Linked DNA regions of Homo sapiens: region 1 is linked to region 2. The links come from fine-mapping of genetic effects on gene expression. Tissue or cell type: whole blood. Region 2 holds a variant in brackets; the other region holds the start of a gene. All regions are shown on one strand. Distances are from middle to middle. Region 1 holds the start of PTDSS1 (phosphatidylserine synthase 1). Region 2 overlaps PTDSS1 (phosphatidylserine synthase 1).

Evidence for each region.
Region 1: it holds the start of PTDSS1, and the variant in region 2 is fine-mapped to the expression of PTDSS1 in whole blood (TOPMed, PIP above 0.99).

Annotation. Positions count from the first base shown.
Region 1 is chr8:96,258,657-96,264,035 of GRCh38, reverse strand. It overlaps PTDSS1 (phosphatidylserine synthase 1), which reads right to left and starts at 2,134. Exons shown (of 13, transcript NM_014754.3): 1 at 1,817-2,134. The coding sequence starts at 1,995. It overlaps MTERF3 (mitochondrial transcription termination factor 3), which reads left to right and starts at 2,426. Exons shown (of 8, transcript NM_015942.5): 1 at 2,426-2,535; 2 at 5,336-5,379. The coding sequence starts at 5,346. RefSeq lists enhancers at 1,209-1,448, 1,594-2,286, 2,769-2,828, 2,980-3,673 and silencers at 1,599-1,778, 1,829-2,198, 2,379-2,528, 2,281-2,605.
Region 2 is chr8:96,331,266-96,336,638 of GRCh38, reverse strand. It overlaps PTDSS1 (phosphatidylserine synthase 1), which reads right to left. Exons shown (of 13, transcript NM_014754.3): 13 at 1-3,182. The coding sequence ends at 3,073. Among named protein-coding and RNA genes, the nearest start is that of PTDSS1, 72 kb to the right of the region's middle. The variant G/A (reference allele first, on the strand shown) is at 2,988.

The sequences.
Region 1 (5,379 bases), 73 kb after region 2:
AGTAATAGTGGCAAGATCCCTCAATCATTAAAGAGTAAGCAATTGTTACTTAAGCTTTATACCTTTAGGTAGATTCTTTCAAATGGATAAACACTTACATAACAAGAACCAAGAGTCAAATGAATCCCAGAGGTAAGGAACAAGTGTGATGTGGGAGGATATTAGTTTTATGAGGATTTGAAAAACTGCAGTTATTCCTAAGGGAGGCACCACCGGCACTTGTGTGTGTGTATGCAAACGACTGTGTAGAAGACAATTCCCTTTATGTTGTACAGCGCTGTCACATATGTCACAATACATTTAGTATCCGTTAACTGCTCCCCCTCCCAAATACTAGAAGTTCTCTCAATCCTTGTGACTACCCAATATATATATCCCTACACATGTTCTGCTGACCCTGACAGAGAACCTTGATTGTTGGATAAAAATACTGGGAGAGAAGTAACTGACATGAATTGTACATTGTGCTCCAGGGACTCTGCTAAATGCATTCACACACATTCATTTAATTTTCATAACCCTATATAAGTAGATATTTCATCCCCATTTTACGAGTGTGGCCCCTGAGGCTCAGAGCAAGGTTATGCAACTTAATTAAGGACACACAGCCAGTTTTGAAACCAAAAGTGTGGCTCAAAAACTACTCTACTCTAAGTTGGCCTTTTAAGCCATAATGGTGAGAGAGGTGTGACTTCCCTTTCTTTAAAGAGGTTCATTCAGAAAGTATAAATCATTCTAAGTAGGAACCACGGTGTGTACCTCCTTATGAACCAAGGATGAATTAGTTCTCTAGGTTAGGAATGAGGAGCCACAGGCGCAGTGCCAGAGTTAACATGAGGTGTGTTCAAGATTTGGGCTGGGCAGCTCCTATGAACCGGTATATATTAGAATGTGTGTGTATGTTTTCCAGGGAATAAGAGAGTTGTGTTATGCTGTGTGAGGTTTATGTGTTTCATTTAACACACAGCAGTTACTATACCCCAGGCACCATTAAAATTGCTGGACAAGATCACATTTCAGCACGTATGTTAGGTAATGAGTGAGCAGGGTATGCACCGCGTGATGTGTGGCGGGCTGGTGTCTGTGCAGCCATGTACACAGATGATGGGTATTGGGCTGTGCTGGAAAGGAAAGGTCCGCTGTGAGGTGTGTGTTTAGAGTGGCAGTTTGTGCCGTGGTACAGATGGTAGTGTTTGAGGCTGGGGGAAGTGTTATGCTGGATGACTTGTGTGCAATGCATACGGGAAGTGCTGCACAGGAAAGACCGTGTATGCAGCACACATGTGCATTTTTTGTGCGTTACGGATAGTGCCGAATACCGGAGTTCCACAGGAAGGGATCTAGGTTGTGTCCTGGGCCTGTGTATGGTGCCTGCAGGCGCTGTGGATTGGGGTGCTTTGTATGTGTAGCGGTGTGTGCTGAAAGTGGTGCATACGACATGATTCATGCGGTGTGCTGGGTAGGGACGAAGGCTGGAGCAGTGCAGAGGAGGGGCCCGCGTCGTGATGTTGTGTGGAGCGATGCTGAGTGCGGTGGGTGAGGGGGCGATCGTGCTAGGTGACTCGCGTGCGTTCCCCGTGTAACCGGAGGCGCTGTATGGAGAAGGGGCACTGAGGGGTAGGGGAGCAGGCTAGCGTACTGTGAGACACCGGGCGGGCGGAGGGGCCGCGTGGGCGGCGGGCTGCCAGTGCGTGTGCGTGGAGCAGCCAGCCCACTTCCTCACCCAGAGCCATGCCGGGCCCCCCTCCCCGCCACCCTCCCTCCCGCCTCTTCCCTAGCCCTTGGACGCGCCCCCCGCTCGGCTGGGCCGCCCCACCTGGTAAAGGCGAAGTACATGAGGCTGACGATGGTGAAGCTGAGCAGGGTGATGGTATGCGGCCGGTAGAAGAAGTCAATGGTGATGTCCTCCACTTGCTGCTCGTTGATCATCCGGAAATGCATTTTGTAGTTCACATCATCCTTGCTTAGGGTCCGGCTCCCCACGCAGGACGCCATGGCCCGCCTCCCCGTCCTGCCGCGGTGGCGGCGGCCCCAGCCCGAGAAGGCCGGGACCCCGGGGGTGACTAGCCACAGTAGGCTAATAGCCGGACGGCAAAGCCGGGTCTGGCGCCCAGCAAAGGCTGGGAGCAGAGGGAAGGACAGGCGCGAGAGGGCGGGGTCGCGGCGCCGCCACCGCGGCCTGGGGCAGGGGACGCCGCCGGCCGTCCCCACGCTGTCATCCTAGCTGAGGCATCTCTACCACTCGAGGAATTTTCAGACTCCAAGTCCACAGGACTTCAGAGGAATAGCGAGCCGGAGAAGGGTAGCCGGGGCCCCTGGCTGGCTCTTTTCAGAGCACGTAGCCCGCTGTCTCCCCGCGTAACCCGGCACATGGTCTCGCCCACTCCGGGCGCGGCCCACGTGGGCCCGGGAGCGCGGCTGCGCTGTGTAGGGCGGGCTGAGGAGCCGGCGTGCGGCGCGGCGGGACGGGACGTGCGGCCCAGCGAGTTGGTCGGTCCCGGGGTCACCCGCTACGGGAAGCAGGCCTCGCCACAGGTAAAGCAGGAGCTGCCCCAGCACGAGGATCGCGCTCCTGGCGAGGGTTCAGGTTCCGGCGCACCCGCGTCCAGACCGCGCCCCAGGGCCTCAAGGGCCTTTAGGTTTTCGCGGCCCAGTAGAGGGTGATTGGTTTTGTTTTGTGTTTTTCCCTGGCTGATGTAGTGAAAACTCAACCATGCTGGCTAATTAGCGCAGTGTGAGAAGCCTCAGGAGGGGGCTCTGCCTTCCTGCGCAAGTTTGGGGAACTGAAGTGGGCTAAAATGGCCTGGGAAGTATTGAGAGACCCTTTATTAGGAAGCTGCCCCCATAACCTCCCTTTCTCTCCTGATTTCATTTATAGCATTTCGTAGGTAGAAATCTTGAACTCTATTTCAGTGCCTTTTTCTAGCGAAGCACTAGGCACTCATTGAGAACAGTATATATGAATTGTTAAGAGACTTCAGTTTCTTTAAGGGTTTTCTGTAATTTTCCTGATGAAAGGACCTTGTTAGAAGACTTCAGGTTACCACCTTACAGGGCTTTTATACACATCTGCACATCCCCTACCCGCTTTTGCATACTGTGTAAGCAAGTGAGTTAACTGTACTTGCCATTGATTTATTTCCATTCCGCAAACATTAGAGCAGTACAAGGCTCTGGGAAAGTGGAGAATAGTCCCCGGAAGGATGGATCCAGGGATGAGACCCAGCTCTGCTCTCGTGCATGAACAGTTAATCAATTGTTAAGATGTGTAGGCAGCAATGAAAGGATGTGGAGAAGATAGTGCACTTGTAAATAAAAATGCAAGGATAAACATTAGTTGTATGCACAAAGATCTTTTAATGACGGGGTGAAATTTGAAAGTGAGTCTTCCTGATGTTTAAGTGGTATTGAGTGTGGAAAGGCTTCAGGATGAATTTGGGATTTCAGGAGTTTGAAGTAGGATGAAGTGCTTAGACGTCAAAAAATGTTAGAGCTGATAGGGGCCTTAAGAATCATCTTATTGTACCCCTAGCCTTTTAAAAAAGCATTATTTGAAGAATAGTTATTGACCCCACCCCCACCCCCCACATCATGGGCTAGACTGCTGCTTTTGTTAGACTGCTGCCAGAAACAGCCTTGTCAAGGTAGCACAACCGAGGTCTTCTGACTTTCAATTTAGTGCCCTTATGACTACCGTGCAGAGAATGAATGTTGTAGGTTTGAGGGAAAACTTGGCACATTTGGAGTCCCATTTCCCACCAAAATCTAACAGAAACCACCTATCCCAGCAGGGTATTGTGAATACTTACTTCTTTTCTAAAATCATCGCAGAATGGGCCGAGCGCAGTGGCTCACGCCTGTAATCCCAGCACTTTGGGAAGCTGGGTGGATCACCTGAGGTAAGGAGTTCGAGGCCAGCCTGGCCAAGATGGTGAAACCCCGTCTCTACTAAAAACACAAAAAATTAGCCGGGCATAGTAGCGGGCGTGGGTAATCCCAGCTACTCGGGAGGCTGAGGCAGGAGAATCACTTGAACCTGGGAGGCAGAGGTTGCAGTGAGCCAAGATGGTGCCGTTGTACTCCAGCCTGGGCAACAAGGGCGAAACTCCGTCTCAAAAAAAATAATAATAATAATAATAATAAATAATTGCAGAATGAAAGGAAACTTTCACTTTTGTAAAATCTCTTTCAGCAAACTTCCCAAAACTACAGATCTCCAAGAAAAGATTAGACCCTCAAGTATTTGGTCTAATTTAGAGCATAAAACAAGCTGAATTCCAGTATGCAGAAAAACAAAGTATAAAGTTGTAGGCAGCAATTAATTCAGCAGAATTTTTGTATTTGGTTGTGTAACCAATAATAATGGCTAACATTTATTGAGCATTTCTTATATCCTGACTCCATCCTGTGTTTTATATGGATAATGTTATTTAACGTAAGATTATATGCATCAAATTTACCTTTCTAATTAGCTGGCTAAATATAAAATCCCTTCATATTCCTGGAGTTTAACATAGCACTAGCCTTTCCTGATAAAAATATTTTTGAAAACTACTTTTTCAGTCAAAATATACAGGTATTAATTGCTGGTTGCTTATTTATTTCTGTCACTTGGTTTTGTTACTAGTTTTGACCTTTTCTTTTTGAAGGCTTTTTTCTCCTTTCCTACAGTGAAACAAAACTTGACAAAACTGGTTTTGTTCAATTCCCTTTGGAAGAACAGCTTTATCTGTGAAGTAATCAACAGTGTTCAGCCCTGAGAATGAAGCAAGAAACTGCTTTCACTGTTCTGTATATCAATGATAATATTTTGATGATTTGTTTAGGACACAGTAGATTTCTGTTTTTTCATTTTGGGACAAATTTATATACATAAAATGCATTTGAATAATTCAGTGTTACTTTGATCAGCAATGTGCTGCGGAAACACCCTTCACACCAAATTTCAAGAACACTTATTTGCATCAGCTTATTCTCTTTAAATGATTAAATTAACAGATTAGTGAGGTCTGCTGTCACTTGAACATTTGCAGATTTTTGTTTTAAGCATTTTTCTTACACCAGTGTCATTGCATTTTGTTTTTAAATTGTAAAGTATATCTTTATTTTTCCACTCAGAAGTTCCTGTCTGTTGGTTTGTAACTGAGATTGCCTTGTTGTTGGCTTTTCCTGTACATAAGAAACATCTCACTATTTTAGACTAAATATATATTTAAACACCTTTCAATTAGAAAAAAATAATTTCCAGTTTATCTTTTTGTTGTTTGAATACCGTTTTAAACATTTAAGTAAATTAAATTTCTCTTCTTTTGACGGTTATATCTTTCCTTTGTAGACTAAGAAAAATGGCTTTGTCAGCCCAACAGATACCCAGATGGT
Region 2 (5,373 bases):
CTAGTTGTCATAACAATAAGAACCATATAAACAACGCCCACCTGGTAAACATTAGGGTGGCCCAGGAACTCTGCAGCAGTCACTGAGCACATTCCAAAGAGCGGATGTTAACCCCCCAACCCCGTATTTTAAAGGGCTAGCTTCAGTCTGGCTGCCAATGGTTACATTTTTTCTTCCCCACCTTGTGTTTAGCCTCCCCTTCTGTGTCCAACCTCCTCCACTTCTCAATGACCCCAAGGGCCTCTGTAAGTGCAGGATTCTACCCAAAACCCTCCCAATTCCAAAGGGTGGGCCTTGGCATAAAGAGGCATCATTCCAGGGTGCTACACGGTGGCTTCTGAGGGAAGACCAAGAAGGCTGAACCTGTTGTATTTGGTAATGAATTTTGTTTTCTCCTGGGTTGGGTGAGCACCTTAGGAGCTTACTGTGGAAGCAGAGTCCTAGCGAAAATAAGACTGGCATTGATAGGATGTCTTGTATCATCAAAATGCTTAACAGGTCCATGAAACATCCTAGCATTGCTGTGAGAGTGGTTCCAAGGTTTCTATGAATGGTGGAAACAGACACAAACGAAATGTGGGAAGAAGCTTTGGGAAGACCAAGAATGAAAAAAAGGGAAAAGAACCTAACACTCAATGCAATGCTACTTAAGGAGAAAAATACATAAACCGTTCTTCAAGCTTTAGGTCCAAAACAATGTTCTCTCTTAAGAGGGTGGTTTGCAAACAGGGACCATGAGATAATTTACAATCAAATCATTTCAGATATTGAATGATGATTCTGAAACACGCATTCTATTTCCATCAATGTGAGGTTTATTTCCATAGAAACGGTGAAAAAAGTAGGCCAAACCCAGCAGTATGGCTTCTAAAAGGAATAGCAGCTGTGGTTCTGGCCAGCCATGGAAAGCACTGGTTTTGTAACTACTATAGTAAAGAGCTCTGACTGAAGGGAAATAGAAAGTTTCAACTCAAAGAAAGGGCATGGAAAGTATCTGAGAACTTTCCTGGCTGTTTCTTACAAAGCCATGGAGAAAAAATCATCTCCTGTGCACCCTGCTCTTCACAATGCCACAGTAAAGTCGAATTCACCACCTGCGAAACAGCTGCCTCCTGTAGGCTGGCCTCAGAGGAAGCACACATGCTCCATCAGTTGCAACAAGGCGAAAGTCAGAAGAGTGTGAAAGTGTCAGGCCCAGTGCTCCCGGAAAATGAACCCGGAAACACTCAGTGAGGCACCACCGGTGTGAGAAAGAAGAGACAGGTGTCTTCTCCAATGGGCACAAGTATGTCATGCTTAGAAAAGCAGAACACAGGATGAAACAAAACATATTTATTTGCAAAGAAAGATCATGTTTAAATTGTACCTGTGTTTAAAAATGGCCTCTTTGATGGGTTATAAAAGTGCAGGCAGGTTTTATGAAACACGCACTTTGCCTCTCTTCTATCCTTTTGTGGGAAGCAGGCAGATGCTGGCTGGAGGACATTTGAGAGCTCGGAGCTGAGGCTCATCACAGCCAAATCCCTCACTCACCAAGTGAGCGGAGCTGCCACTGACGCTTCTCCACTCCCGCAGAATCTACTATTGAGCACTGGGCCCCCTGAGGACAGGATGTGACCCTGGCTGGCATGATTCATTCAACCCGTTCATCTTGGAATTCTTTTGCAGAAAAAAAAAAAGTGACACTTCTATGGCTAAAGATTTCCTTAAAGAAGAAGAAACATCAGAACGAACCTTTGTGCTGTGTGAAATGAGGGAACAAAAGATTACTTTCAGTGAGTTGATATCTGTAAGCTAATCAACTGGGTACTGGCCTCTTGTTAGAGGAAAAAAAAGTCCAACTTGGAAACCATTACCACAGGAAAAAACAATGACTATGTTGTTCATTCCTGTTGGTCACTTGGGTAGTCTAAGAAGTAGGACATATATGTCTGTAAGCCCTTTAAAATACACATCTTTTCTTTTTTCTTCTCACTATGTAAAACACATATATATTATCCTAAAGTCACTTGAAAAACACAGACTGCTTACAATCAATAGAAGATACCAGTAAGATGCAAGAAAATGAGCATTTTACAGACAGACCTTTGATAGGCTTTAAAGTGAATCGTTTTTATTTAAAACAGGGATCCATCAGAGGTGGTGAACTATCAAGGTCAAGGTTCTAGAGCATGGCACAGATGAAAGGTAATACTCACCAGCACCTCACATGGGACTCAGTGACAATGTCAGCAACACACCATGGAAGGAGAACAAACCCGATGTAAAAGGCACCTAGCTGGGGAGAAGCTGTGGTGTTCACTGCCTCTCTAGCAGGTTTGCTTTTGTGCACTGTGGCTAAGTCTGGATGAATAATATTGGGAAGGGAATAATCGGAAGCGAGGCTCCTATGCAGGCAGCTACCCTCTCCTGATTGGTGTATACTCGCCATGTGGTAGGAGGTCTTACAGGAGACTGAGGTTACCAAACAGGAATACAACACCTCTCTCCCTTTTCTGCTCTAGAAGGAAGGGGAACCCTTCCCCCAGTATCAATTTCAGCAGCGGCTTCTAAAGGCTGTTAAAAAGCATCCTAACTTAAAAACAAATAACAACAGTAACCAAATAAAAGACAGAAAAGTGGCCTGAACTTAAATCAATCAATGGAAAGGTAGATTCATAAAAATAAAATAAAAACTGGTGACCAGTCCATTAACCATGGGGTTAATGCCTCGTCTGAAGGAAGATGTTTACGCTGCATCCACGATCCAGCAGGCGCGGAGCTGCTCTTGGCAACTGTGAATGAATAGCTACCGTTTCCCTTCAACACACCGCGCTGCCACCGGTGACCGCATGTCAAGTGCTGAAGTTAGAAGAGACCCCACGTTGGCAAAGGCCCCCCAGGCGATGATCTGCCTGACGCGGCCAGGTCTGTGGGAAACAAGACTTACGATCTCAAATAATGACCCCCAAGTGCCCTCGCCTCTTCCTGCTTGCCCTGTGCGCCTC[G/A]ACCTCCTCACGGGGAGTTCCAAATGAGTTCCATTTCCCTCTCAGTTCTAGGCACTCTGGAACATCTTTGATTAACCAGGGTTTTTCATTTCTTTCCAACGCCATTGGTGACTTTTGACTTGGAATGCCGATTCCTTCTCCTGGAAGAATGGCTTTCGTTGTTGCCTGCATGCTTGGGTGGGCTGTCTTCAGAACCTGGCCAAAGGAATCAGAGCACACCGTCACCCTGGGCTCTGGAGATTGGTGACTGTCCCTTTCCAGACCGCCCTAGGCTTGCCGGGGAACAGGTTCTTCCCTGATACGTGCACTCCCCCTAGTGGCCTCATTCATAAATGAAGGCGAGGCTCTCAAACACAGAACTAGTACTGAAGGAGCACACGCGGTGGCGCGGGGTTCAACGCAATAGCGCCCCAAAGTCTGGGTGGTTCCTGAAGCGTGTGTACATCTGTCCTGTGTATGATGGACATGGTCATGATGGTGAGGACCAGAAGTGAGAGCACAAGTGAAACGGAAGCCCAAACGAGGGGCAATTAAAACACACACCACGCGGTGCCCATCCTGCCCTGCAACCAAGGGTTTCCATCCCTTCACCTGCTCCACACCACCTTCTAAACCCGACATCAGGAAAGACTCTTGACACTATAAAATCAGAGCTATTTCACACCCTCTACATTTGATCTGGAGAACATCTTTACAATTCAGGCCCCTGCTGCCCACGATGGAGGGCACTGGGCAGCCTCTGCCCTCCAGCTGAGCCTTTGTTCAGCCCCTGCCTGGCCTAGCGGCCAAGCCAAAGGGTTCTCTGCCCCAGGGCTCTGATCCAGCCCCATAGGAAATCTCCACCTGAGGCTGCCAACAAAAAAAAAGTTACCAGAGTTACAGTCTCCACTGTAAGGAGCATTTGACTTAGACTAAGAGATTCTTTCCCCACTCAGAAGACTTCTGTTTTTGTTATTTTTCTTTTTTTATTATTCCATCAAGTAAATACATCTCTACTACTGCTTAATTCTCTTCAGTGGAGAACCTGTAAGTGCCAAGGTTGTTTGTAAGGGCATGGTTCTAAATAAGATAGCTGGGGAGCCCCTCTGTCCATCTCTATCAGATTTCACAACGGGCCGCTCACTGATCAATTCCGTGGTTCAGGAGAAACTTTCCCCAAAAGGGCGGCCAGCAGCTCAGCAGAGTGTATGTTAGTGTCTCCCCTGGGAGATCTTTAATGAGCCTGATGCCAAAAGAACTTAGGAGAATGACTGCAACAGGGCGCTTTCTTCTCCATTGGCCCACCGTTTCTCTGAGCAATTTTGTGAGCTAAAATTCAGTCTTTAGTATTTCTAATTTTCTTTCTTCAGCCAAGCTTCCCAAGTAGCTTATAAGGATTGACGAGGAATTACTGTCCAATGAAATCACCTCAATGTCATTATTCTACAAGTCTAATTCTTTGAAATAACCAGGTGGCCCCAAATATTCCCAAAGTGATCCTTAGAGGCCAGTGGAGGTTCCCTAACTACACGACCAAAATCTCTTACACTGCCCTGCCTCTTGAATAAATGCCATTAAAATGATCCCCCTCTTTTGAAAGGCTTTTCCTCCTGATACACAGTACCTTTTTTTTTTTTTTTTTTTTTTTTTTTTTTAAGAGGCAGGGACTTGTTCTGTCTTCCACATGGGAGTGATCCTGGGCTCAAGTGACCCTCCTATCTCTGACTCCTGACTAGCTGTAACTACAGGCATGTGCCACCACATCTGGCTAATTTTTTAAGATTTTTGTAGAGACAGGGTCTTGCTCTGTTGCCCATGCTGGTCTCAAATACCTGGCCTCAAATGATCCTGCCATGGCATCCCAAAGCGCTGGGGTTACAGGCGTGAGCCACTGTGCCTGGCCGGATATACAGTTCTTCCTGTTCACTCATGATGGAAGCCAAGAGGAAGAACGTTCCCATCAGGGTGCTTGAAATGGTGTGGGGCCCTCACGAAGGGCAGAGCTACATGGAGCCTCTTCTTACAAACCAAGTCTTTCACTCAGATCCTGTGAGCATTTTGCATGTTTCTTTTTCTTTTCTTTTCTTTTTTTTTTTTTGAGACAGAGTCTTACTCTGCTGCCGAGACTGGAGTGCCGTGGTTTTGAGACAGAGTCTTACTCTGCTGCCCAGGCTGGAGTGCAGTGGTACGATCTTGGCTCATGGCAACCTCCGCCTTCCAGGTTCATGCGATTCTCCTGGCTCAGCGTCCTGAGTAGCTGGGACTACAGGCGCCCGCCACCACACCTGGCTAATTTCTGTATTTTTTGTAGAGACGGGGGTGTCACCATGTTGGCCAGGCTGGTCTCGAACTCCTGATCTCAAGTGATCTGCCCACCTCAGCCTCCCAAAGTGTTAGGATTACAGGC